Linked DNA regions of Homo sapiens: regions 1 and 2 are each linked to region 3. The links come from fine-mapping of genetic effects on gene expression. A gene starts in region 3. Each other region holds a variant in brackets. All regions are shown on one strand. Distances are from middle to middle. Region 1 overlaps RBPMS (RNA binding protein, mRNA processing factor). Region 2 overlaps GTF2E2 (general transcription factor IIE subunit 2). Region 3 holds the start of GTF2E2 (general transcription factor IIE subunit 2).

Region 1 (8,181 bases), 82 kb before region 3:
CCATTTTTGTAAAACCACACTGACCTAAATTCAGCTGCCAAACACAGTCTTTCCTATTGATCCGCTCGGCTTATGTTGAAAATTTCAATGTCATGATTACCTGGTTGGTTTGGGTTTTTGTTTTGTTATTTTCCATTAGAAATATAAAGATGTCAAGAAGCTTTTAAAGGTCAACACAAAAAACCAAGGCCAGGAGTGAGGGGCTCTTTCTTACCGTAAATAAGGGGAAAAGGCAGTTAGCTCAAGGACTTGTGACGGATCCACTTTGGTGTTCAAGGACCTGCTTATGCCCTCAGTGCCAATCGGCTCTTGGTGAGATGACTGTACTCCTAAGGAAAATAGCCACTTCTGCAGTCTATTATGCTTTTATAACTGTTTAAAGGTACTTTTCTATTGTCATTTTTAAAAAATAAAGTGCTTATTCCAGCTGTCACACCATTGCTTGACAAATTCTTTTTTAGCAAGACCAACTACATGTATCCCACACTGCAGACAAGACGCCAGCAGATTTCATTCCCATTGTCAGGCTTCGGCAGAGCTAAGCAAGCATTGGCCATTGAGCTTAGGCACAAAGAGATTAAAGGAGGAAGCAGATACCGGGGAAAGCCAGAGAGTAAGTCTGCAAACGCACAACCACAGTGGCTGGTGACCCACAATGACACCAGAGGCAGAGGGACCTCAAGGGAGGCCCCTCATCTACCTCAGCCTACAAAGCTTGACTCAGGATTATCTGAATTATATTAAAATGTCACTTGGGTTTTCTGCTGACTTAAATATATCTTACGCCAGGCATGGTGGCTCACACCTGTAATCCCAACACTGGGAAACTGAGGCAGGAGGCTTGCTTGATCCCAGGAGTTTGAGACCAGCCTGGACAACACAGCAAGACCCTCAATTTTAACATTAGCCAGGAGTACTAGCACCTGTGGTCCTAGCTACTCGGGGGACCACAGAGGAAAGACAACTTGAGCCCAAGAGGTCGAGGCTGCAGTGAGCCATGACTGCTCCACTGCACTGAAGCCTCGGCAACAGGGCAAGACCCTGACTCCAAAACCATAAAAAATTAAAAAAAAAAAAAAAGTGGAAAACCAGGCACCAATTGCCAAGAGAATCGTGTTTTATATATACTCTCACCTACTCTTTTTTCCCCCCAAAGGAGAAAGAAAGCAAAAAAAAAAAAAAAACATCCAAGCAGTGGCAACAACCACTACTGAGTCTTGCTGGGTACTGAGATGACCCGCAGTGAAGCTCTCACAGCCTGCCTGCAGAAGAGCCTAGCCACCAAACGTAGGTTGTGTCCACTGCCTTCCAACTTACGTAACTGTAGAGGCCAAACGCTTTCCTGGGCCCAGGCTTAGAAGGCCACGCCAGCATGGCTCTCAGGCCCGCCTGATCTGCCTTTGGTCCACCTGTGAGCTCCAACTCATAGGCACCAGAGATTGGCCAAACAGCTAAGGAATGGAGGCTAGTGAGCTCTTAAGGGGTTTTGCTGCCTCGGGACTGCCCGGACTCCATCCCAGCCAGTCACTGGCTGAACACAGTCACCTATGATTTTTTACAGGGGGCCCTGGGATGGATGAGCACCCCAATCTTCCCCATGCTGATGATAGTCATTCATGATGTGCAAGTGACAAGTCTGGATGGTATTTACTAATCTAGTGTGACCTCCAGATATATTTCCACTCACCAGCCAGATACCAGCTTCATTAGGGTCTGTGCGAAGTTACCCTTTTTGTCACTCTATTGAACAGGAAGGAATGCAGTATGTCTTCTGGAATCAAGAACTTGGAATACGAAAAAGGCAGGCTGTTTGCTCTTGCTCCCATGCAAAATGTCCCAATTTGTAGGCTCCAGAAAGATGGTAACTAAGCCCATCTTTTTGTGTGATTACCAAATGAACCCTTGTTAATGTCGAACTGATATAACTATAAAAGTGGCATCTGAAATTAAATACCATGCTTTCCACGTCTATAACAAAATTACAAATTAAAGGAATGTGAAAAGAACCTTGCAGTTCACAAAGTGAACGCTACATTGCCAATTAATCACACCTGGGCTTCAGACTCAGCTGGACCCAGGGCATGCACATGTCTCCACCCTACTTTCATGGACTAGCTTGCAATTGTTATTGCCCCATCCCTGAATTCTGCGTTCCAATACACAAGAATTCTTGGTGTCTGTCAAGATGACATAAAGAAGTAAGGTTTTTTTTAAGGGACGGGGTCTCCAGACTGGAGTGCAGTGGCAGATTCACAGCTCACTTGCAGCCTCGAACTCCTGGACTCAAGCCATCCTCCTGCCTCAGCCTCCTGAGTAGCTGGGACTATAGGCGCGTGCCACCATGTCCAAATTCAACTAGTTGTTTCTGAGCGCTTTGGGCAAGACATGATCTGTGCTAAGAATATGGACAGGTTCCCAAAAGCACTCTCACCCACCCAGATGGAAGGTTCTGGCACACAGTTGCTCTCCTCTCCAACTCTTAAACCATTCTCTCCACACCCTCATGGCATAAAACCTCATGGCATAAAACAACTTTACAGCCTGCATAGAAAACCTAAGAATATTCATTACCAGTGAGGTGTTATTTAAAACACTCATCCTCAATAAATGCCTCTCCTAAAACTCTAATAACTATGATAATGAAAAACTGTATGTTGTCAGCAATTTGATCAAGAGCACTAAATTAGGAAATTTCAATAACTGCCACTGTAAAGCTATCTGTCCCTGCTGTAGAACATCCCAGATGGAACTAATATTAACTCTTGTGTGAACTGGCCTGGCTCCATAGCTACCCAATCCTGAGAGATGCCAGTGTGCTGTGAGAACTAGGCCCCTCTGCAGCTCTCCAACGAACCTGCCACTTACCTCTTCCTGACCCTCAGTTCAAACTCATTCCTATTTGGGGGGCGAGGGAGGAGGGAGCTCTTCCTACAAACCGTAATAATTTGCTGGTAAACATAAACAAAACAGTGAAGGCTTCCATTCTCCACCACTGTTCACATACATCTCACCTATGGACGATCTGAGGGGAAGAGAAAATTCGGGTCCTTGTGTTCCACTTGTCCAGTTGAGAAATTCACGTGGAACTCTGCCCATGGTCGTTAATTCCAAGTTAGGAACTTGGGCCAAATGCTTAAAGTCAACCCAAACTTCTCTTCTGAGCAAAAAGGAAGGCCTAAATGCAATGAGAAATGATGCACGAGTTAAATAAAAGATTTACCTGGACAAAAGAGCACTTTTTAAAACTACAACATAAGCTTTGGCGTGGGGGCTTAGCAGGCACTTCAAAACCTCACAATCACCACCCACGGGACAAACCTGCTCTTGGCGCTTCTAGAGCTGGTCCCGCCTAAATCAGGATATGGTTCACTCAGTTATCCCCTGCTGGCACCCTTCTGTGTTTTCTTTAAAGGAAAGTCTTTGCCTTTTCTCCCTTGACATGCAAGCCCCACGAAGTTGTGGCCAGATGAAAAGTCACTGGGCTTTCACCAGGGTCTCAGAACCACATGGTTAAGTCACACAAATGTGCTGGTCCCATCCCCAACCAGTGGAGTTGGATTAGTCCCCTCCCCATCTGCTGAAGAGCAGGATCCACATTTATTTCTAATGGAAATCCAGGGAAGCAAAATGCACTGTCGTTCTTTACACTGCAGCCAGAGGGGGGCCAACCGTACAGCGCCAGCCAGGGCCGTCTAGCTCTTTGAGTTTCCAGCGGTGCTTCCCCCAACACTCCAGACAGGACAGGGATGGGTGTTCTACGGTCCAGTTAGTCTGAAAAATGGTTTCCAAGAGGTCCTTGGACCATCCCACCACAACTCCCACAGAACACCTTCTCATCTCTCAGGACAAGCCCACAAAAACCACCCTGAGAGACCTCGAACCTGCAGGAAGGTCCAGGAGGGCTGCTCCGCCTCGCTGCAGAAGGCGCGGCACCAGGCTGAGCTTGTCAACAGTCAACCAAACCTTAGAAAACCCCAAATCCTCCCCACAAATGAGTCATCTGAAAGTAAAACCCGTGGCTACAGGGAAGAGACACTGAGTCTCATCCTCTATGCCTCAGAAAATCACTATTAACTAAGAATCAGGGAACTGATAAACCAAATGCCCTCATCCCACAAAACCGTCCACACTGACAATCCCATTCTACTGCTACAGATTTCAAACGGCTCACAGATAAAGACAGGGCTGTCCACTCGCAGTCCCTTGAACGCTGGGGCTGGAAGGAACGGGATGTCCTGCGCTGCCTTTCCACTAAGCCTCTGCTCAACAGGTGTCAAGTGCCACTCTGTCCCCTGGGTCCCACCATCATCTGGCCACATTTACAGGCTGTGACAGCAGCAGCCAAATGTTCGGTTTTTACACTCTGTCCAGGCTTGACTACATTTCCCTTAGCTATCCCCTAAAAGCCTCACATCATGGTGATGAATTATAGATCAAATGCACTCCCGACTGTCATACCCTCTTAACTCACCGAGCCGTGCCATTCCCACGTGCTTCTAAATGGCCAGCAGAG[C/G]CACCAGAAACGGGCAGAGGCGAGAACATGACTTCAACTTGGTGTTTCTGGTGGATATGTTTTCAGACACCCAGAAGAACTGCGAAGAGACAGCTTCTCTGTATAGCATCCCTCGGAGATGCTGCAGACTTGGTTCCAGGCCATCGCAATAAAGCAAATATCACAGTAAAGTGGGTCACACAAATGTTTTGGTTTCCCAGTGCATATTAAAATGTTTATGCTACATGATAGTAGAAAGTGAGCAATAGCATTATGTCTTAAAGAATCCAATTATATACTTTAATTTAAAATATATTATTGCCAAAAAGTGAGCACATGCTGTTGGAAAAACGGCACCAACAGATCTGCTTGAAGCAGGGTTCCCACAAACCTTCAATATGGAAAAGAAACTCCACTGTATCTGTGAAAACACATAAAGCAAGTACAATAAAATGAGGTGTGCCTGTAATATGACCGTCCAACACAAGTAACCTTCCATCAGTGTTCCCACAAACACTGTATCCTCAACATGTCACCCGATGATGCAACCCCAGTACCTTGAGATGGGGTATATGGAGGATTTGCTCTTACATGTAGTAGACTGAGTGGGTCGAGGCTTAACAAAAGAAACTGCAAGTGAATGAGATAAAGCTACGGAATTTTGTTGAGTACAGCAATTTAGTGAGTCACTTCATTTTGCTAGATCTTCATTTCTGAAATGAATTTTAGACAAAATAACTGAAATCAATTATCAGGCCAGCCCACGAAGTACTGCTGAGCACAGGCATTGCTAGAAGTCACAACCAATAACACAACTGGCAGTAAGCGCCTTATCACAGAGATGGAGAACCTGATCACAGAGCCCACGACGGAGGCCCTGATGCCCATCTCCCTGCAAAGCAGATGAGATGTCCAAACTGTACTTCCAGACCTGGCCCATAAAATAAGATGGAGTGTGGAGATCACAAAAGTAGGTACCTACCTGGAGATAAGCTAACTCTAGATTTTTTACAGGAAAGCTAGTTTCATGCCATAAGATATTAAAGCTCTTCCTTACCAGAAAAAAACCTTATACAAAGCAAGACAGGCTGTATTTCCTGTGTTCTAAATTATCGTGGGAACCTCAGTTACATCCTCTCCTGCCATGTTTTGGGGCTTGGAGGTAAGAAAGAGGTAAAGCAAACAGATAACACTGTAAAGGGATGAGAGGTAAGTAGAAAAGAGAAAACAACTGAAAAAGCAAAAAAAGGTTCTTTGTCGTCTGCACAAAGCACTTCCTGCTCTGGGTTTCCATCATGCCTTTTCTGAGAACCAACACCTCGTTTCCTAATCCACTACTATCCCATGCTGTGACGGGAGGACCATGACCACCAGCACAAAGGACCACAGCAGAACATAAACAGTGCAGGTGAGGAAAATGCAAACTTTGCCGTAGAAAGCAGAACCATGTGAATTTCCCGTGAGTCACCCTCACTCTAAAGAACACTCACATATTTGGTAATGGCTCTCATGAGCTGGGCCGGTGACAGAGGGCATCTCCACCAGAACCATCTCCGGTCAGGCCACATGAGGGTGGAGGCATGGTATAGCTGACGTTCAGGTTGACGAGGAGACACTACAAAGGCTTGCCATCCTGGAATTTACCAAACCCAAGAAGCTGGACACTGATACTTTTTTTTTTTTTTTAAGACGGAGTCTCGTTCTGTCACCAGGCTGGAGTGCAGTGGCACGATCTCAGCTCACTGCAACCTCCGCCTCCCGGGTTCAAGTGATTCTCCTGCCTCAGCCTCCCAAGTAGCTAGGAGTACAGGCACATGCCCCAACGCCCAGCTAATTTTTATATTTTTAGTAGAGACAGGGTTTCACCATGTTGGCCGGGATGGTCTCGATCTTTTAACCTCGTGATCCACCTGCCTCAGCCTCCCAAAGTGCTGGGATTACAGGCGTGAGCCAGCTTGCCCGGCTGACACTGACGCTTCTTTTTAAAAGAAAACATTAACAATGACATCCAGCACATCTTTATTGCTCTGCTTGCTAACAAGCAGCACACCTGTGTTCCAGTGGTGAAATCCATGTGCTCAGCAACACAGTGCAGACTGCAGGCTTCATCACATCCCCAGCACGTGACCCATGGAAATCAGAGACTGGAGCTGCTTCCTGCCATTTCCGAGAATGAAAAGAAACAGAATTCACTAACATCTTAAAAATCCTTCTACAGTGATTTTATTATAAATATGTTCTTTTGGAATAAACAAATATTGCATTCAAGACTATGGGCAAACTTGCTCTAAAGTAACAAACGAGGAAGAAAGGAACCAGGAACCATTTAGAAGTGGAGAAAAACACAGCAAAGACACCTGCATGCCACGCTCAGCGCCTTTCTCCCAGGGAGTAACAGAAGGTTAACAGGGAACATCACATTGCCCATGAGCCCATTCTACTCAAATAAGCTTTGAGTTTGGTAATTTGCACTTGTTTTGTAAACTGAACTGCTCCTCTCCTCAGCCGCAAGAAGCAGATAGGAAGACAGTCTTCAGACCCCGAGCATCAGCAAGAACACTCTTGATTGTGTATCTGTAACTCTGTTCCAGGGCAAAACTGTTCCCTATTTGCTGGAAGTAATGTCAGAGTAATCCTTCAGCACTCCAGCCAAGTGTTCGTTATGAGTCTTAAAGCGTCGCTTTTTCTGTGAAGCAGGCTTTTTCCTTCTCTGAATAGGGGCCTAAAGGAAAAGGTAAAAACAATTAGAAACAACAGCTGCTCTGAGGGGTGGTGTGGCCAGGATGTTCTGAGCATGCCCAGATGCCAGTGGCTGAGGATGCCAGGTTCGGACCCTTCTCCTGCTCTGCCACCCAGCAGCACACATGGGGCACAGCACACGCCCTGACCAGACCCCGGGCCTTTGTTCCCCTGAGATGCAGATGCCATCGGGAATGAAGGAGCAGGCACAAAAACCTGCCAAAATGGTTCTAGGCACTAAGTCAAACAAAAGGGACGATGAAGCCCTTCAGCTCTGTCTCTGTCATCAGGTTTAAAAACGTATCCACCATTACCGATTTTAAAAAGATCTGAAGAAAATATGGCAAAATCCTGAGAAAGGAGGAGCACATGAAGGTCTGTAATATTCTCTATTCTTTTCTATATACTTGAAATATTAGCATCACATGATGAAAAAAATTAACAAATGAGACAATAATAGGAAATCATGAAGGGCTGCAATTACACTCATTTGTGGAAAGAGATTGACAATAAAGCTTCCCTTTAGGTGAGTCCTAAAAATTCACCAAACACACATGCCCACCCCACACCCCAGAAAGACACAGGTGACAAGCTATGAAGCATGACGGTGGATAAGGAAAGGGGGGAGGAGCACAGCACTGCTAACAAGGGTGCTGGTGAATCATCCCCCCGGGCTTTGTTCTTAGACTACAGATTTTATTTGCTGGTGCAAGGCAATGTAAAAGTCATCATTTAATTACTAACATCCCCTGTGAGCAGGATTTAGAGACTATACGGACAAAAATATCTGGTTCCTAGAGGACCTGAAAGTTACTATGGCAGAACCAGGCACCAGGACGGCGAGGCTCACGGAGCAGGGGAGGGCCCCGTTCAAGTCTGAAAGGTTGTGCAGATCAAGGCACAGCATCCCTTTAAGAATAGGGAGAAGGGCTTGTAGCAGCTTAGAGTGG
Region 2 (8,181 bases), 26 kb before region 3:
GAAAGTGAGGAAGGATACCAGCAACTCTGAAGCATTCTCGAAAACCACCTGGAAGAACTAAAACACAAAATTAAACAGTACTTTCTCCCTCTTTCAACACAAATGTGAACCTGGGTGAAGGTTCCTTTCTTATCCCAAGCTTCTGCCCAACTGAGAACAAGTAAGTTGCCTACTTTGATCAGGTGAGAAAAGAAATCAAGTAGAAAATTTTAAAAAAGAAAAAAACTGAGGTTTCCTCTGCCTATACTACTGACTTGCACAAGAGTGGAGATCCTTCCTGGGGAGTAGGGAGCAACCACACACACAAAGAGCAGGCTAATAAGCTGGGCGAAATAAATGCAAAGACAAAAATATTCTCCTGTCAAAAGAGCACTGACAATTATTATTAACTTATCATGTCCACAACTTACTGATTAGGTTAATAAATGTGAACTCGGAGGTATAGCAATTCTTTGCATGGGTTCTCTGAGACCTGAAAATTATTTCAAGGGTTCCTCCAGAGTAAGAAGATTGAGAAAGGCTGCTCTATTGCATTGAGGAACTTTGCCTCTACTAATTTGCTGCAAGTTTTTATAATAAATTGGTATTAAATTTTACCAGAGGCTGGGCATGTTGGCTCACGCCTGTAATCCCAGCATTTTGAGAGGCCGAGGCAGGCAGATCACGAAGTTAGGAGATCAAGCCCATCCTGGCTAACACGGTGAAACCTCATCTCTACTAAAAATACAAAAAATTAGCCGGGTGTGGTGGCACACGCCTGTAATCCCAGCTACTTAGGAGGCTGAGGCAGGAGAATCGCTTGAACCCGGGAGGCGGAGGTTACGGTAAGCTGAGACAGTGCCACTGCACTCCAGCCTGGGCAAGAGAGTGAGACTCCGTCTCAAAAAAAAAAAAAAAAAATTTTACCAGCAACTTTTTCTATATCCACTAAGAGATCATGATTTTTCTTTATTCTGTTAATATAACTTACACTAATTAATTTTCAAATATTAACCACTCATACATTCCTAAACTTTACTCCATCACAATGTATTATCAGATCTATGGACATATATATTCATATCTTATATTTGAACAGATTAAATTGGTTCATATATTTTAAAAAATTTTTATACCTGTATTTAGTAGAGATATTGTCATATAATTTAAATACTTTTATTTAAAACTGGAAATAGATCCATATTCTTGACCCAGTCCTACTATGGACCAGAACTGTGTCTATGAGCCAGTCATTTAATGTCTATGGACTCCAGAGTTTCTAAATTCAAAAATAATTGTCAGAAGTAATTCAGACAGAAGTTAGGCCAGTGATTCTCAAACTTCAGCATGTATCACAATCACTTGAAGGGCTTTTTTAAAAACAGACTGTTGCTCACGCCTGTAATCCCAGCACTTTGGGAGGCTGAGACGGGCAGATCACAAGGTCAGGAGATCCAGACCATCCTGGCTAACACGGTGAAACCCCGTCTCTACTAAAAAAATACAAAAAAATTAGCCAGGCGTGGTGGCAGGCGCCTGTAGTCCCAGCTCCTCGGGAGGCTAAGGCAGGAGAATGGCGTGAACCCAGGAGGTAGAGCTTGCAATGAGCCAAGATCGCACCACTGCACTCCAGCCTGGGTGACAGAGCAAGATTCCATCTCAAAAAAAAAAAAAAAAAAAAAGACTGTTGAGCTATACTCCCAGAGTTTCAAATTCAATAGGTCTGGAAAGGGGCCCAAGAATTTGCATTTCTAACAAGTTCCCAGGTGATGCTGATACTGCTGGCTGGAGAATGACACTGGAGAAACACTAAGCTAGAATAAGCCAAATTAACCCAGATTTTTCAACATAGTGTTTTACATAACCGAGACATAAGGAATAATGCTGAAATCAAGAGAAAAATCATTTTATCAAAAATAAAGTACACACTTAATTTGTCATCTGAGAATTAAAGTGCTGTCTCATATGAAGAAAGAGGCATCCTAAGGGGATTTTCGAGATAACTTGGAGTGCTTTTAAAACTTACTCCTTTAAGCAATAAAATTTGTTTTACATTAACCATTTCTGTAAAAATCCTCCTAAAATAAACCATAAAGTTCCTCTTTCATCTTAACCAGGTCACTGAACATAATTTAATCTTTTTTGATGTCTCAGTTACTGTTCCAACGTAAATTACTGAGCTATGGTATGATAGTAACCATCTCAGGAGCTGGTGAGATGAGGTGGGCAGTTTGTCCCCTCCACTGCATGTTCTCAGTATTATGACTCTGAAGTTCCTGTATCTGCCTTTCATCTTTCTATTTAGTACTTTGTCCAAAGTTATGACTATCTGCTATAAATCTCACTGTACCTATCTAATGCCTCCCCTGGAACTTTTTCCACAGTTTCTAAATCATTCTTATTAAGCAATTAAACAGTTTCCCTATTAAATGAATCAACTATAAGGAGCATTTCTGTTGCCTTTCTTTTGCTTTCTTTCTAAAGGTACACAAAAGACAGTGGGAGACTTTCCAAGAATCTGTTTACAGATACCTTCCAAATGTACTTCTTCCCTTTCAAAATAAGCCCTTCTCTTTACCTTCCACCTCCCCCCGCCATGAAAAAGTAATCTCACCTCCATTCAGAATTTGTGATGCAGAGCCTGAAGGAATAATAAACTCCAGGGACCCAAACAAACAGACAAGCCAAAAAAATGGTTTCAGGGAAGCATTCGTGAATGGTAACTGAGGTGCCGTAAACTATCCATTACTGGGCTTCTTGTCTTTTCCAGTCACATATTTTTCAAAGAGTTTAAAATATTTTGGCCCCTGCTGGAACATTCTAATCTATCATAATCTGTGAGCAATTGTTTAAAGTTTCCTCTAACAACCATTCCCCCTACACCCCCACCTCCATTCAGTATTGTCCAAGAACGCATTGCTCTTAGGGGACAGTATGATAAAAGTAATGCACAGAGAACACTGGTTAAAAAAAAGATAAAAAGAAATATTTTTTTCAAGAATTCTTATTTTTTTATTAGCGACAAGGTCTCAATGTGTCGCCCAGGCTGGAGTACAGTGGTGCAATCTTGGCTCATTGCAACTTCCACCTCCCAGGCTCATGTGATTCTCAGCCTCTAAAGTAGCTGCGGTTACAGGCATGTG[C/A]CAACACACCTGGTTAATTTCTTTTTGTATTTTTAGTAGAGACGGGGTTTCACCATGTTGGCCAGGCTGGTCTCAAACTCAAGTGATCCACCTGCCTCAGCCTCCCAAAGCGCTGAGAATACAGGTGTGAGCCACTGTGCTGGGCCGAGAATTTAAATATAAGTAATTCTCAAAACTCATTCCCTGAATATTTATTAGCTTGAAGAAAAAGCATATTTAGAGAGCTGGAACAATATCAATTAGGGAGGCTGATTCCTTTAAATATAAAAGAAATACTTTCTAGGACTGCCAAGTCATTCAAATTGTGCTATATAAAAGCTGTATAGAAATTACTTTAGATTGAGTGTGCATTACTCAATATGGTAGTTAAAATCTATTTTGTCAAATCGTATCATTAAAGTTTTATTCTAATTAGTCAATTCTCATTATAGTTTTTCAACAGTTTAATATTTCTACCTTCTACTGACAAAAAATAAGATATGCTAGCTGTCATACTGAGTAGTTTGAAGCAGTAGGTATCTCTTTCATTAATTACCCAAATAAAAATGTAAGGTTACTTCTGATTCATTCCCTTTTATTTATACCTAATAGCTGAGATCAGAGATCAGAAGATGCAGGAACACACATTTAAAAAGGAGTAACAGGCCAGGTCTAGTGGCTCACGCCTGTAATCCCAGCACTTCAGGAGGCTGAGGCAGGCGGATCACTTGAGGGATCCCCTGAGCCCAGGAGTTCAAGACCAAGCTGGGCAACACTGAGAGACCCTGTCTCTACAAAAAAAATACAAAAATTAGCCAGGCATGGTGGCACGTGCCTGTAGTCCCAGTTACTTGGGAGGTTGAGGTGGGAGGATCACTTGAGGCTAGGAGATCGAGGCTGCAGTGAGCCAGGATGGTGCCAATGCACTCTAGCCTAGGTGACAGAGTTAAGACCCTGTCTCAAAAACAAATAAATAAATAAAGGAATAACACAACTTTTATCATATCCCTTGCTTCATATTTTAACTGATTTAATTTTTAATCTAACATGACAAGCAGCGCAGAAATGTTTAAATTATTACAAAAATTGACAAATTACTGTAATTCTTTTTCAGTCATATAATTTTCAGCTCAAATACCTTAGCAGTATCTTTTAGTATGCATTCCATAATTTATTCCTCAGTGGTTTTCATATTATCCAAAATATCTGGTAATCTATTTATTTGAAATTTAAAATAGAGGAAAATTTTATGATTCAAAGCAAGTTTGTTATGGCTAGTTGGTTTGACAATGGAGACTGGCTTTGTTAACTAGGAGATATTTTCTAAAAATTGAATAAGCTAAACCTTCATACTAAAAGTTTTCACAAAAATATATTTTAAACACATAAAACAATTATAATAAAAATTCACAAAGCTATATTAAAATTAACAGTATTTCTATTTTCTCAACTGCTTCTGAATATATCAGATTTTAAAGAAAGTACCTATGAAGGGAGGGAGGGGAACTGATATAAGACATTTGATAAGCCTTTTTGATATGCTTCCTAGAAGCTAAGAAAATAAATGGTTAAGCACTAGGTAACAAATCCTTTGGCAAGTTGGGTGGTTTCCATTCTTTTGCTTTCAATAAAACTGAAGGAGGACCTAACAGAAGCATTAACTAATGGATGCTTGATGATAAAATCACTAGTGATTTTTGACATATAACTTGGAAGATTCTGATATCACAAAATTTCCATTAGAATTAACTTATATATTTGAACATTTATGTCTAAGCACTTAAATTCTACAAAATCTCAAAACACGAACAGATTTGCCAAACACAAGAACTAATGAAGGAAGAGAGGAGACAGCTGCATTCATTTAAGAATAAATTTCTGATACAAAGTGAATTTAATCAAAATTTTAATCTATGTATGTTATTCTAATCAACTGTGCACCAATAATTGTAAAAATAACTCAAACCGTAAGTTATTTTTAACACTTAGAGCTTTACGGTCATAGGAAAAACATTTTAAATTTTGATTTATATTTCAATTTATTTACATATTATTGTGGCAGAAAAGTTTGATAGATGATCAATAAATGATTTGAAAGATAAAAATACATAACATTTGGATAAAATTCAAAGGGAGTAACAGATGGGACACAAATATTCAAAGAAAAAATAATTAAAATTCCCAATCATTAAGGGAGTTTGTTTTTATACTTTTAAATAATGACATTTAGATTCCATTAGATAAATTTAAAAGTGATATATTTTATTGAAATACTACAATATGCCAGAAATTCTGTATTTCTGGTCATCATTTAAATTTTTGCTTGAATAGTGCCACTATTTAAACTTTGCTAACAGAGTGTAGTTATCAACTTAAATATGTACAAAGGGGTACACAGTTTTTCAAACTGTAGGGAGCACAAGTAAAAATTCTGAAGTTCACTGTTCTAAGACAGACAAAGTTATAAGTAAGCCACATAGGGAAGTGAAGACCATATTAACAGAGTAGCAAAAACATGACACTTAAATGTCAGTGTCCCTCAACAGAGTGACAGCCCTGAGGGTGGCATTTTTTTCTGGGTATTCCCACCATTAGTGCCCTAAACAGCCAATAGATTTTCATAACTGCTTACCATGTGGGGGAATAAATGGATGAAATGAATCAACAGTGAATACTTACGTGTCAAAATACATTATTTAATAATGGGGAGTTATATACTAACATATTTATACTATAACCCAAATACAAACCACAGAATTTAGACTCAGCTAGACACTAAGTCTATTAAATTACAAAAGAAAAGCCTTAGCACAGTTAAAAATCTGATTTATATTTTAACCAATAGATGGATGAAATTAAAATAACAAATATAGTACTGTCTTTTTCAAGAGATGCAACTAGTAACTAATCGTGAATAAGAGTTTGGCAAAAGAAGGGAGCAAATTTGAAATTACTTAGCCATCTTAGCTAAAAATGAAATCCCGCTTTAATAAATTTAGTTAAGATTCAAAGTCTTGGTCAGGCATAGTGGCTCATGCCTGAAAGCCAAACACTTTGGGAGACCGAGGTGGGAAAATCACATGAGCTTAGGAGTTCGAGACCAGCCTGGACAACACAGTGAGACTTCGTCTCTTCTAAAAATAAGAAAATTAGCCAGGCATGGTGGTGCATGCCTGTAGTCCCAGCTACTTGGGAGGCTGAGGCAGGAGGATCACTTGACCACAGGAGTTCAAGGCTGCAGTGAGCTACGATCGTGCCACTGCACTCCAGCCTGGGTAACGGAGCAAGACTGTCTCAAAAAAAAAGAAAAGGGAAAAAAAAAGATTCAAAGTAAAGCCAAAATCTTATATGATCAAAACTTTGTATTCAAAAAATACTAAACCTTCCATCAAACATTAAATTCTAATTCTTTTGTGAGTCAATGTTTTTCTAAGACTCTCAGTAAATGTCTAATTTTCTCCTCCAAGATGCAGAGAAGCCATCACCATCATCTGCCTGAACTATGTACTTTTTACTTCTCACATCAATGGAAGTAATAACCTGAAAAATCAATCACATCCTCCCATTGGTTTTGCCAGCCTGTATTCATTAAGAGGTGATATACCTACTGCCTAGGCACACTCTTATTAAGTGAAATGGTGAGCTTAAACTGTACCCTTGAGTTAATGCAGATTAAATATGCTTTGGTAACTCGCCACAATGCCAAATTAATACAATGTAAAAGGCTTGAGGTATAATTGGCATACAATAAACTGCACATACTGAAAATGCACAATTTTGATAAATTTTGATGTATACAGAAATTTAACTTCTGAAAACCCTAATCTCCTTCTTTTGCCAAAAAGTTAAATAGGACTTTTGCTATCTGAGAAAAGTACTTACCTTCATGTAATTCACAATCTTAGCAAGAACACCAAACTTATATCCAGAGCTTCCTGACAAAGCTTTCAAGTTAAATGATCCATTGCTATGATCTGCAAATGAAGTTCAAAATAACATCGTCATATTATGTGTGATTATGACTCTTGAGCAGCTAAAATAATTTTAATGCTGGTAACATATTTCTTGAGTTTTTCATCTAGTATATTCTACCCTGTAATATTCTGGTGAAAAATACACAATCTTTGAGTATATACATTAAAGTACCAATTTTCTCACTAAGGGTAGAAACAAAGTATAAATAACTTAAAACACCAAACCACAATTCTTTTATAAATATCTTTATCACATTATTTTTTATTATATTTTTTGAGACAGGGTCGCATTCCCATTGCCCAGGCTGAAGTTCAATGGCACAATCACAGCTCACTACACCCTCAACTTCCCAGGCTCAGGTGATTCTCCCACCTCAGCCTTCTGAGAGGCTGGGACTACAGGTGCACACCACCATGCCTGGCTAATTTTTTTATTTTTTGTAGAGATGGGGTTTCGCCATGTTGCCCAGGCTGGTCTCAAACTCCTGGACTCAAGAGATTCACCCATCTCAGCCTCCCAAAGTGCTGGGGTTACAGGTGTGAGCTACTGCACCAGGCCCCTTTCTCCTTTATCTCATTCTTATCTTAACTCTGATTAGACTCGCTCCATAATCAGAAGTACACTTTATTAAACAAGGAAACAATACAAACCTCAATCCCATCCATAAAGCTAACACAAGGAGTGGATTACTTCTGAGGGAAGAAAAGTTCAATATACCACTTTTTACATCAATTTCTGCTTACCAATTTAAGACCAAAAAAATAGGAATTAATGGAAACTAATAGAAAAAAGATATCACAATTATTTTAAAGTAAACTTTACAGATAAATTAGGAATAAAAAGCCACAGGCACTGCCACTGCATGAACATGGATGCTTACTTTAAAAAGCATCACAGCACTACCCACCCACTTTGAGAAACACCCCCCTCTCCTTCTCTATCTGGTGTGGAAAACCCTGTACAAAAGATCATTTGTTTCAAAATATCTATCATTTTGTTGCATTCTTACAAGCAGAAACCCTAATGTCACCACTGCATCACAAATGCATTCCATTAGTCATAACCAGGAACAGTAAAAAATCCATCATAAATACTAGAAAAACAT
Region 3 (8,181 bases):
GCAGACTGCCTGAGCCCAGGAGTTGGAGACCAGCCTGGACAACATGGTAATACCTCCTGTCTACAAAAATACAAAAAATCAGGCAGGCATGGTGATGTGTGCTTACAGTCCCAGCTACTCGGGAGGCGGAAGTGGGAGGATCACTTCAGCCTGGAAGGTCAAGGCTGCAGTGAGCTGTGATAATGCCACTGCACTCTAGCCTGGGTGACAGACCAAGACCCTTGTTCAAAAAAAAAAAAAAAAAAGAAAGAAAGAAAAGAAACAGAATTATTCCCTAAAGTTCCAGAACTGTGCTGTCCAATATATTAGCCACTAGCCACATGTGCCTATTAAACATGTGAAATGTGGCTAGTTAAAATTGAGATGGACTTTCAAGTGTAAAAACCCACAAGATTTCAAAGATTTAGTATAAAGAAAAAAACTATTTAATTACTAACGAGATATTTTACATTAATTACATGTTGAAGTGATACTATTTTGAATATACTGGGTTAAATAAAATGTTAAAATTAATTTCACCAATTTTTCTTTTAAAATATGGCTATTAAAAAAAAATTAAGAGACAGTGTCTCACTGTGTTGCCCAGGCTGGAGTACAGTGGTGTGATCATAGCTCAATGTAGCCTTGAACTCCTGGGCTCAAGCAATCCTCCCACCTCAGCCTCCTGACTAGCTAGTACTACAGGTACACGCCACCACACACAGTTAATTTTTTTAAAAACTTTTTAGAGACAAGGTCTTGCTATGTTGCCCAGGCTGGTCTTGAACTCCTGGCCTCAAGCAATCCTCCTACCTCAGTCTCCCAAAGCACTAGGATTACAAACATGAGCCACTGCACCCAGCCTAGAATATTTTTAATTACACGTGTGGCTCACACTTCCCACTCCCATTATATTTCTATTGGACAACACTGCTGTAGAAACATGAGGACTACAGGGCAGAAATTAGAAGAAGGTGGATTTAGGCTCACTGCAAAAAAAGAGAACCATCAGAACTGCTTATACATAAAATGGCATATTTTTACAACTGGTGAACTCTCAATTATTAAGTGATGAAGAGGCTGAATTATTATACTATTTGTTAGAAATGTCTACAGAGAGCCGGGCACAGTGGCTCATGTCTGTAATCCCAGCACTTTGGGAGGCTGAGAGACCAGCCTGGGCAACATAGTGAAACCCTATCTCTACGAAATTAGCCAGTCATAGTGACACATACGTGTAGTCCGGGCTACTCAGAACGCTGAGACACGAGAACTGTTTGAGTCCAGCAGAGGTTGCAGTAAGCTGAGATCCCGCCACTGCCCTCCAGCCTGGGGGATACAGCAAAACTCTGTCTCAAAAAAAAAAAAAAAGTCTACAGAAAATTTCCAATTTGGAGGGAGGTGGTTTGAGGCAACTTCTATGTTGTGGTTGTTGTTTGTCTAGTTCTAAAATTACAACTCAAAGCAATTTCACTACAACCAGGGAAGCTACAGGTCAACCAACAAGAATTCTAAACACACCTCTCTTCTGAACTCTGCTAGAACCCTACAGAGGGTCTATGAAGACCTCAAGCTGACTATATAAATGAATTTGACACTGTTAAGACTAGTGTCAGCTGGGAGGAAAAAGACTCATACTTTGAAAGCTTTTAAGCACAGATAGCTCAATAAATATTTGTTAAATGAACAACACATGGAACATCATCTTTAAATTGCTCTGGTCCCATTATTACTGGTTTCACAAGCCTTTATTAAATATCTTGTTTGTGAGGCACTGTGCTCTAAGCTTTGAAAGGTTACGGAAGATAAATCCTTGTCTACATGCTGCTTAGATTTGAGAAAATGGAAGCATTGAGCTAAAAATTTTAAATATAAGCATTGATAAGAAATAATCAGACTGAATTTCAATTAAGGCGTGAACAATCACTGGACGGTGAATCAAAAACCTGCCTTCTCTCAGTTTCAATTTTTTTTTCTTTTTTTTTGAGACAGAGTCTCGCTCTGCCGCCCAGGCTGGCAGAGTGCAGTGGTGCAATCTCGGCTCAATGCAACCTCCGCCTCCTGGGCTCAAGCGATTCTCCTGGCTCAGCCTCCCGAGTAGCTGGGACTACAGGCGCGCAGCACCACGCCCCGCCAATGTCTGTATTTTTAGTAGAGACGGGGTTCATTCACCATGTTGGCCAAGCTGATCTTGAACTCCTGACCTCAAGTGATCCGCCCACCTCAGCCTCCCAAAGTGCTTAGATTACAGGCGTGAGTCACCGCACCCGGCCTCAGTTTCAATTCCTAAAGCCACCTGGCTAGGCAACCCACAAGGCCTCTACATTCAATTTCATAAGTGAAATGAGGACGCTATGAAAGCTGTCCACATCCAGCCCAATTGTAAGAATGAGAAAATGTGTATGTTATTTTTTAAACAGTAAAGTCATAAAAACGTGTTATTTCAGTATTACTATTTTGAGTTGGATCTGAAAGAAGGGAATGATTTACCGGGCTGAGGAAAGTAGGAGACAGCCTTGGGAGGAGGGAAAGCGTGGGGCCAAGAAGAAGAAAGGAGAATTGTCAAGTGAGAAGGTGGGAGCAAAAAGTAAATTTCTAGAACAGGAAACATTTGTGTCTTATTTCACGTTGCAAAGGCAGGACCTCAATCTGGACTTTAAAAAAATTACTCTAAAAGATTTAAATAGGCCGGGCGCAGCGGCTCACGCCTGTAATCCCAGCACTTTGGGAGGCCGAGGAGGGCGGATCACGAGGTCAGGAGTTCTAGACGAGTCTGGCCAACATGGTGAAACTCCGTCTCCATTAAAAATTTAAAAAATGTGCAGGGTGTCGTTGCGGGTGCCTGTAATCCCAACTACTTGGGAGGCTGAGGCAGGAGAATCGCTTGAACCAGGGACGTGGAGCTTGCAGTAAGCCAAGATCGCGCCACTGCACTCCAGCCCGGGCGACAGTGCGAGACTCCGTCTCAGAAAAAAAAAAAAAAAAAAGTAAATAAAGCCGTACAGTTTACAACAAACTAAATGCTTACAGTATTTGACCCTCGCAACTCTAGGAGCAAACAGGTATTAGTGTTATTCCTATTTTAATACGTGAAATCTGAAGTGAAGCTGTCTGGTTAAGGTCGCACAGATGGAAGAGCCAGGGCCAGGAACCAAACCTCCTGACTCCTAACTCAAGTGCTCCTTACACCAGACCTGGAACGCTGGTAAAGGCCTTTAAAACAAAGGCCACCTGTGAGGTTCGGGAACGTTCAAAGGCATCTAGAGCAGAAAGCTTCGCAATGTCTGTCTTTCACCATCACGTGCTCCGCCTAACTTTTCCTCCTTTTTCAAAGACTACCCAATATGTGTACTAAGTTTTAGATCTCTGGACCCCCCTATGGAGTAAACAGGCTACATCACCATGTCCATTTTACAATTAAACAAAACCACAACTCAAGGAGTTGGCTGGTTCCTCCGTGGGCAGACACGGAAAACCCAAAAATTAAACTGAAATCTGCCTCCAAGCCCACGATTCTTGCCACCATTCGACCTCTTTCAACCTTACTACTTCCCCTCTCTTTCACTTTTACCCAGCCTCGTTAGTGTCCCTGGCACCTCAGGACCCGGCTATGAAAAGCAGGCTGCTTCGCCCTTAAATGACGGAAGTGGGGAGGTGGGCGAAAAGGGGGCCGCAGCGTTGTTTAGACTGCAGAAATCAACTACTATCGTTAAAGTTTAGGGATCATCACAAACCAAATCTCCAAAAGGTAGCCTAGAAAGCAGTCCGCGTATGAGCATCATTTTAAATCACAGTCTTGAGCTGGCTGGACCCCGCGGCTGCTCAAACTCCACACACGGTTCGCTTGGCTACCGCGCCCGTGAACTTGGAGGCTTGGAAGAGGCACAGTCAGGCGGCAGACCGCGAATTTTCCCTCTTTCCAACCCAAAAGTTTGCTCAATGAACCTCTGGCCTAAAGACAATGCTCCGGGGAACGGTTCGCGTGCTGGGTGTTTCGCTTCGAGAACGGCGGTCCCAGCTTCCCGTGAGGTGGAGGTCACGCTCAGCCTCCCGGGAGGCGGCGGCGCGCCTGCGTCCCAGGGAACAGCAAGCCGGGGCTCTGCGCCCCACACCCGGCGGCCGCAGCCCCTACCTGAGTGAGAAGGGCAGCCTCGCACGACTCGCCGCCCCCTTCCTGCGCCTCCGCCTCGGCCGGCCGCCCACGCCGGCACTGCACCCTCTTCCTGCTTCTCGTCAGCGCCCCCGCCTGCCCGCACGCACGCCCAGCGCTGACCCGCCAGGTCGGGGTCTCACCACTGGCGGTGGCGGCGGCGGCGGCGGCAGCGGCGGTAGCTGAGGCGGCGACTGGACCCGGGACTCCGCCCGCCACTTCCCGATCGGGTGCTAGGAGCTCAGTCCCGGCAGCCACCGCGGCGCCAGGGCAGCCAAGCGAGCGCATGCGTCATTGCGTGCCCCGCCTCTGGTGCCGCGGGAGCGGAACTATCCCGCTCTGGCGTCCTGGGGCCTCCATGACAACGAGGGAAGGGCTGGGGTGGGGCCGAGAAGGGGACTGAAGTGGGAGGCGGCGCCACTGAAGATGGAAGGCAGCTTTCTTTATAGACACTTTATTAAAACTGCTACAGCCTGCTCCGGCGTGCGCTGGGATGTGGTGAACCCAGCCGACGACGCTATCTTTCAATGGTTACTTTGTGTTTTTTGTCTTTTTCTTATTAGAGACGTGATCTCACTCGGTCACCCAGGCTGGAGGGCAGTGGCGCGATCTCGGCTCACTGCAACCTCCGCTCCTGGGCTCAAGCCATTCTCCCACCTCAGCCTCCGGAGTAGCTGGGATCACAGGCGAGTGCCACCACGACGGACTATTTTTGGTTATTATTGTTGTTGTTGTTTGTATTAATAGGGTCTCACAATGTTGCCCAGGCTGGTCTCGAACTCCTGAATTCAAGCGATTTGCCCGCCTCGTCTTCCCAAAGTGCTGGGATTACAGGCGTGAGCCACCGCGCCCGGCCTCAACGGTTATTTTGTGAGTTTACCCCAGCGCCACACACCAGCACCTGCACACCGAGAACGCGGTTCCAGCTCTTTTACAAGCGAAGAACAGAGGGCCAGGAAGCTAATTAATAAATGACTTGCTCAAGACAACACAGCTAGCAAAGGCAGCCTGATGTGGAGCACAGCCCAGCCTCTTCCCTCCACCCCTGTGAACTGTCTTAGAAAAGGATTTTGGATTTAGAAGCCAGATAAATGGGTGGAAATAAAGCAGTGGAAAAAATAATTTCATTGCCCGAAACCTGCAGCGTGGCAGGCCTTCCCTCACTCTTATAACCTAAAGCGGCAGTACAGCCAGTGCTCAGCCATTCTGTGGCTGTCGTTGAATTACTGGTTACTCTTCAAGTTACTGAAACTGTGGCTCAGTTTTCTCATCGGGGAAATGGGGATAATCATTGTACTACTACAATGAGTTACTTGCATTGGACTGTGGTGAAAATTAAGTGAGAAAATACCTAAAATTTTATTCAAAACTTGGAAAAAAGTCAAAAGATAATATTTTGTGACTTTTATTAGTTTCATTCTAGAGAATTTTGTAATAAGCCTACTTGATCATCTGACACCCACAGGAAATGTAACTTTGTTTGAATAACAATTGATTAGGGCCCAGAAGATTTACAAAAGGATGAAATCAAACATCAATTGGTAGGAAACTGATGAGGTGTTAGGGGAAAAAGGGGCAGGGAATTCAGTGTGTATATAGATAGATAGATAGATAGATAGATAGATAGATAGATAGATAGATAGATAAAATTCCAAAGGTTAAGGTTGCATTTTTCTGAGAAAAATTAACCGGTTTTGTATCAACTGAGCAGTTTTATTTCAGCATTCCTTTCCCCAACGATTATATAAATATCATTTTTCAGAACTGGTAGAAATCCGTTTTATGATTCTGCTGGCTCCCTTATTAATGAGTGAGAGACTTATACATATGGACAATGGCTAAACCGCATATGATAATAACACTCTAACTCACATAAGCCAAACCATAACCTCTACAGCAATCAGCTCAAAATGGTCAGAATTTTCTCAAGAAGGCTGCCAACTTTTCTATTTTAACCTCTCTGTCCTCAGACACCAGTATCAGCCAGAGAAAGCCAAATATTCTTCCCAAACCAATCCTGTTAAGTTTCCTGCTTCAAGTTAGACAACTTCCAGCTTCCCCTGCCAACATCCCTAAATCAGAACACATCAGAAGCATCCCTTTTTTCCTCCACTGTAAAGTCTCCCCTCTTCCCGATTGCTTTTGAGTCTCTGCCAAACTCAAGTGTGGTCGCTGCCCCTATTGCTATAGCAAGCTCTGAATAGTCTCTGTTCTCACTTGGCAGGTCTACATTTCTTGCGTTAAATAAAACTTTGACACATATTCACTATCTCTTCCCTTGAGACTTAGAAATCTAACAATTAGAGAATCTTTACAGAATTAAATCTTTCACAAAGAAGGTGCTCAATAAACGCTTACAGTGAGTAATTTCATGTCAATATCTTGACTCATTTCAGCCAGTTGAAACAGCTAAGCTACTAATAATATCAGAATGTACTATCTATAATCCAGACTCTCAAATCTCAATTGTGTCCCCTTTACCCAGAAGTTAGCTCTTGTTATTAATATCATTGAAACCCTCTCATACAAACCCCAGGAAACCTTATTACATTACAAACTCCTGCTTATACTGCCTGTTGCATGTGTCTAGGTCTTAACACTGAAAGCAATGGCTTCATTCATTCTGAGGCAGGAGAATAGGGTCTGGAAGCAGAGAACCTAAGGCCAATTCACGCTGACTCCCTAGAAAGAGCTAAATCAAAAGGAAAACCCTAATTTTCCACACCCAAGTAACAAAAGGACCAGAGGCTGCTCCCTTTGCAACCCCTCACCCCCATTTTTCTGCCTGGCAGATGAAAAATTGAAAGTACCTCTGGCCGGCCGTGGTGGCTCATGCCTGTAATCCCAGCACTTTGGGAGGCCGAGGCAGGCGGATCACTTGAGGTCAGGAGTTCAAGACCAGGCTGGCCAACATGGTGAAACTCCGTCTCTACTAAAAAATACAAAAATTAGTGTGTGGTGGCGGGCACCTGTAATCCCAGCTACTCAGGAGGGTGAGGCAGGAGAATCACTTGAACCGGGGAGTCAGAGGTTGCAGTGAGCCGAGATCGTGCCCCTACACTCCAGCCTGGGTGACAGAGCAAGACTCCATCTCAAAAAAGAAAGCAAAAAACCTCTAACAGAGAGCCAAACCCCATCACTGCACACACACACACACACTCTCTCTCTCTCTCTCACACACACACACACACACACACACACATATGTAGACTTTCCCCAGGTAGTTATTGGCCAGGATGGAGTCACATACCTCATCTAAACCAATCAATCCCCATGAAAGGGAAAGAAACTACCGTGACAACCTGAAACAAATTTTGATTCACCTTTCTGGAGATGGGGAGGGAGTAGCCTACCTCGAACACATGAGTGAGCAAAGAGTGAACTCACATCTTTAAAAAGTTGGGACCAAACTAGCTTCTTACCTTGCAGAAACAAATAAGAAGTCGTTCCATAATTCAAACTTTCTTTCAAGTTTTCTCTTTGATAACCGTCATATCTTAGCATGCAATACTAGGTGTTTATGATCAACTTCCATAATAATTATCATAATAAAGAAAATAATTTCTCATAACATTTATGTATTTCATGATTTTTGCTACATCAGTGTATTAGAGTTTTCCAGAGAAATAGCAAATAGGATATGTGTGTGTGCGTGTGTGTAGACAGAAGGAGAGAGAGACCGAGAGAGGAAAAAAAAGAAATAGAGACAGAGTTAGAGAGGGATGTATTTATTTATCATTTAAGACACAGTCTCACTCTGTCACCCAGACTGGAGTGCAATAGCACGTTCTCAGCTCTCTGCAACCTCCACCTCACAGGTTCAAGCAATTCTCCTGTCTCAGCCTCCTGAGTAGCTGGAATTACAGGTGCGCACTACCACACCTGGCTAATTTTTGTATTTTTAGTAGAGACGGGGTTTCACCATGTTGGCCAGGCTGGTCTTGAACTCCTGACCTCAAGTGATCTGCCTGCCTTGGCCTCCCAAAGTGCTGCAATTACAGGCGTGAGCCACTGCGCCCAGCCAGAGAGGGATTTCTCATGTCATTATGGAG

What was found. PIP is the estimated chance that this variant, and not a neighbour inherited with it, causes the effect.
Region 1: its variant is fine-mapped to the expression of GTF2E2 in whole blood (TOPMed, PIP 0.97).
Region 2: its variant is fine-mapped to the expression of GTF2E2 in whole blood (TOPMed, PIP above 0.99).

Annotation. Positions count from the first base shown.
Region 1 is chr8:30,571,824-30,580,004 of GRCh38, forward strand. It overlaps RBPMS (RNA binding protein, mRNA processing factor), which reads left to right. Exons shown (of 9, transcript NM_001008710.3): 9 at 1-433. GTF2E2 (general transcription factor IIE subunit 2) reads right to left here. Exons shown (of 8, transcript NM_002095.6): 8 at 6,495-7,214. The coding sequence ends at 7,098. Among named protein-coding and RNA genes, the nearest start is that of SMIM18, 63 kb to the right of the region's middle. RefSeq lists a silencer at 3,930-3,979. The variant C/G (reference allele first, on the strand shown) is at 4,514.
Region 2 is chr8:30,628,049-30,636,229 of GRCh38, forward strand. GTF2E2 (general transcription factor IIE subunit 2) reads right to left here. Exons shown (of 8, transcript NM_002095.6): 3 at 6,984-7,075. Among named protein-coding and RNA genes, the nearest start is that of SMIM18, 6.4 kb to the right of the region's middle. RefSeq lists an enhancer at 2,295-2,354. The variant C/A (reference allele first, on the strand shown) is at 3,123.
Region 3 is chr8:30,653,862-30,662,042 of GRCh38, forward strand. GTF2E2 (general transcription factor IIE subunit 2) reads right to left here and starts at 4,375. Exons shown (of 8, transcript NM_002095.6): 1 at 4,112-4,375. RefSeq lists enhancers at 2,904-3,575, 4,247-4,918 and silencers at 3,960-4,049, 4,060-4,469.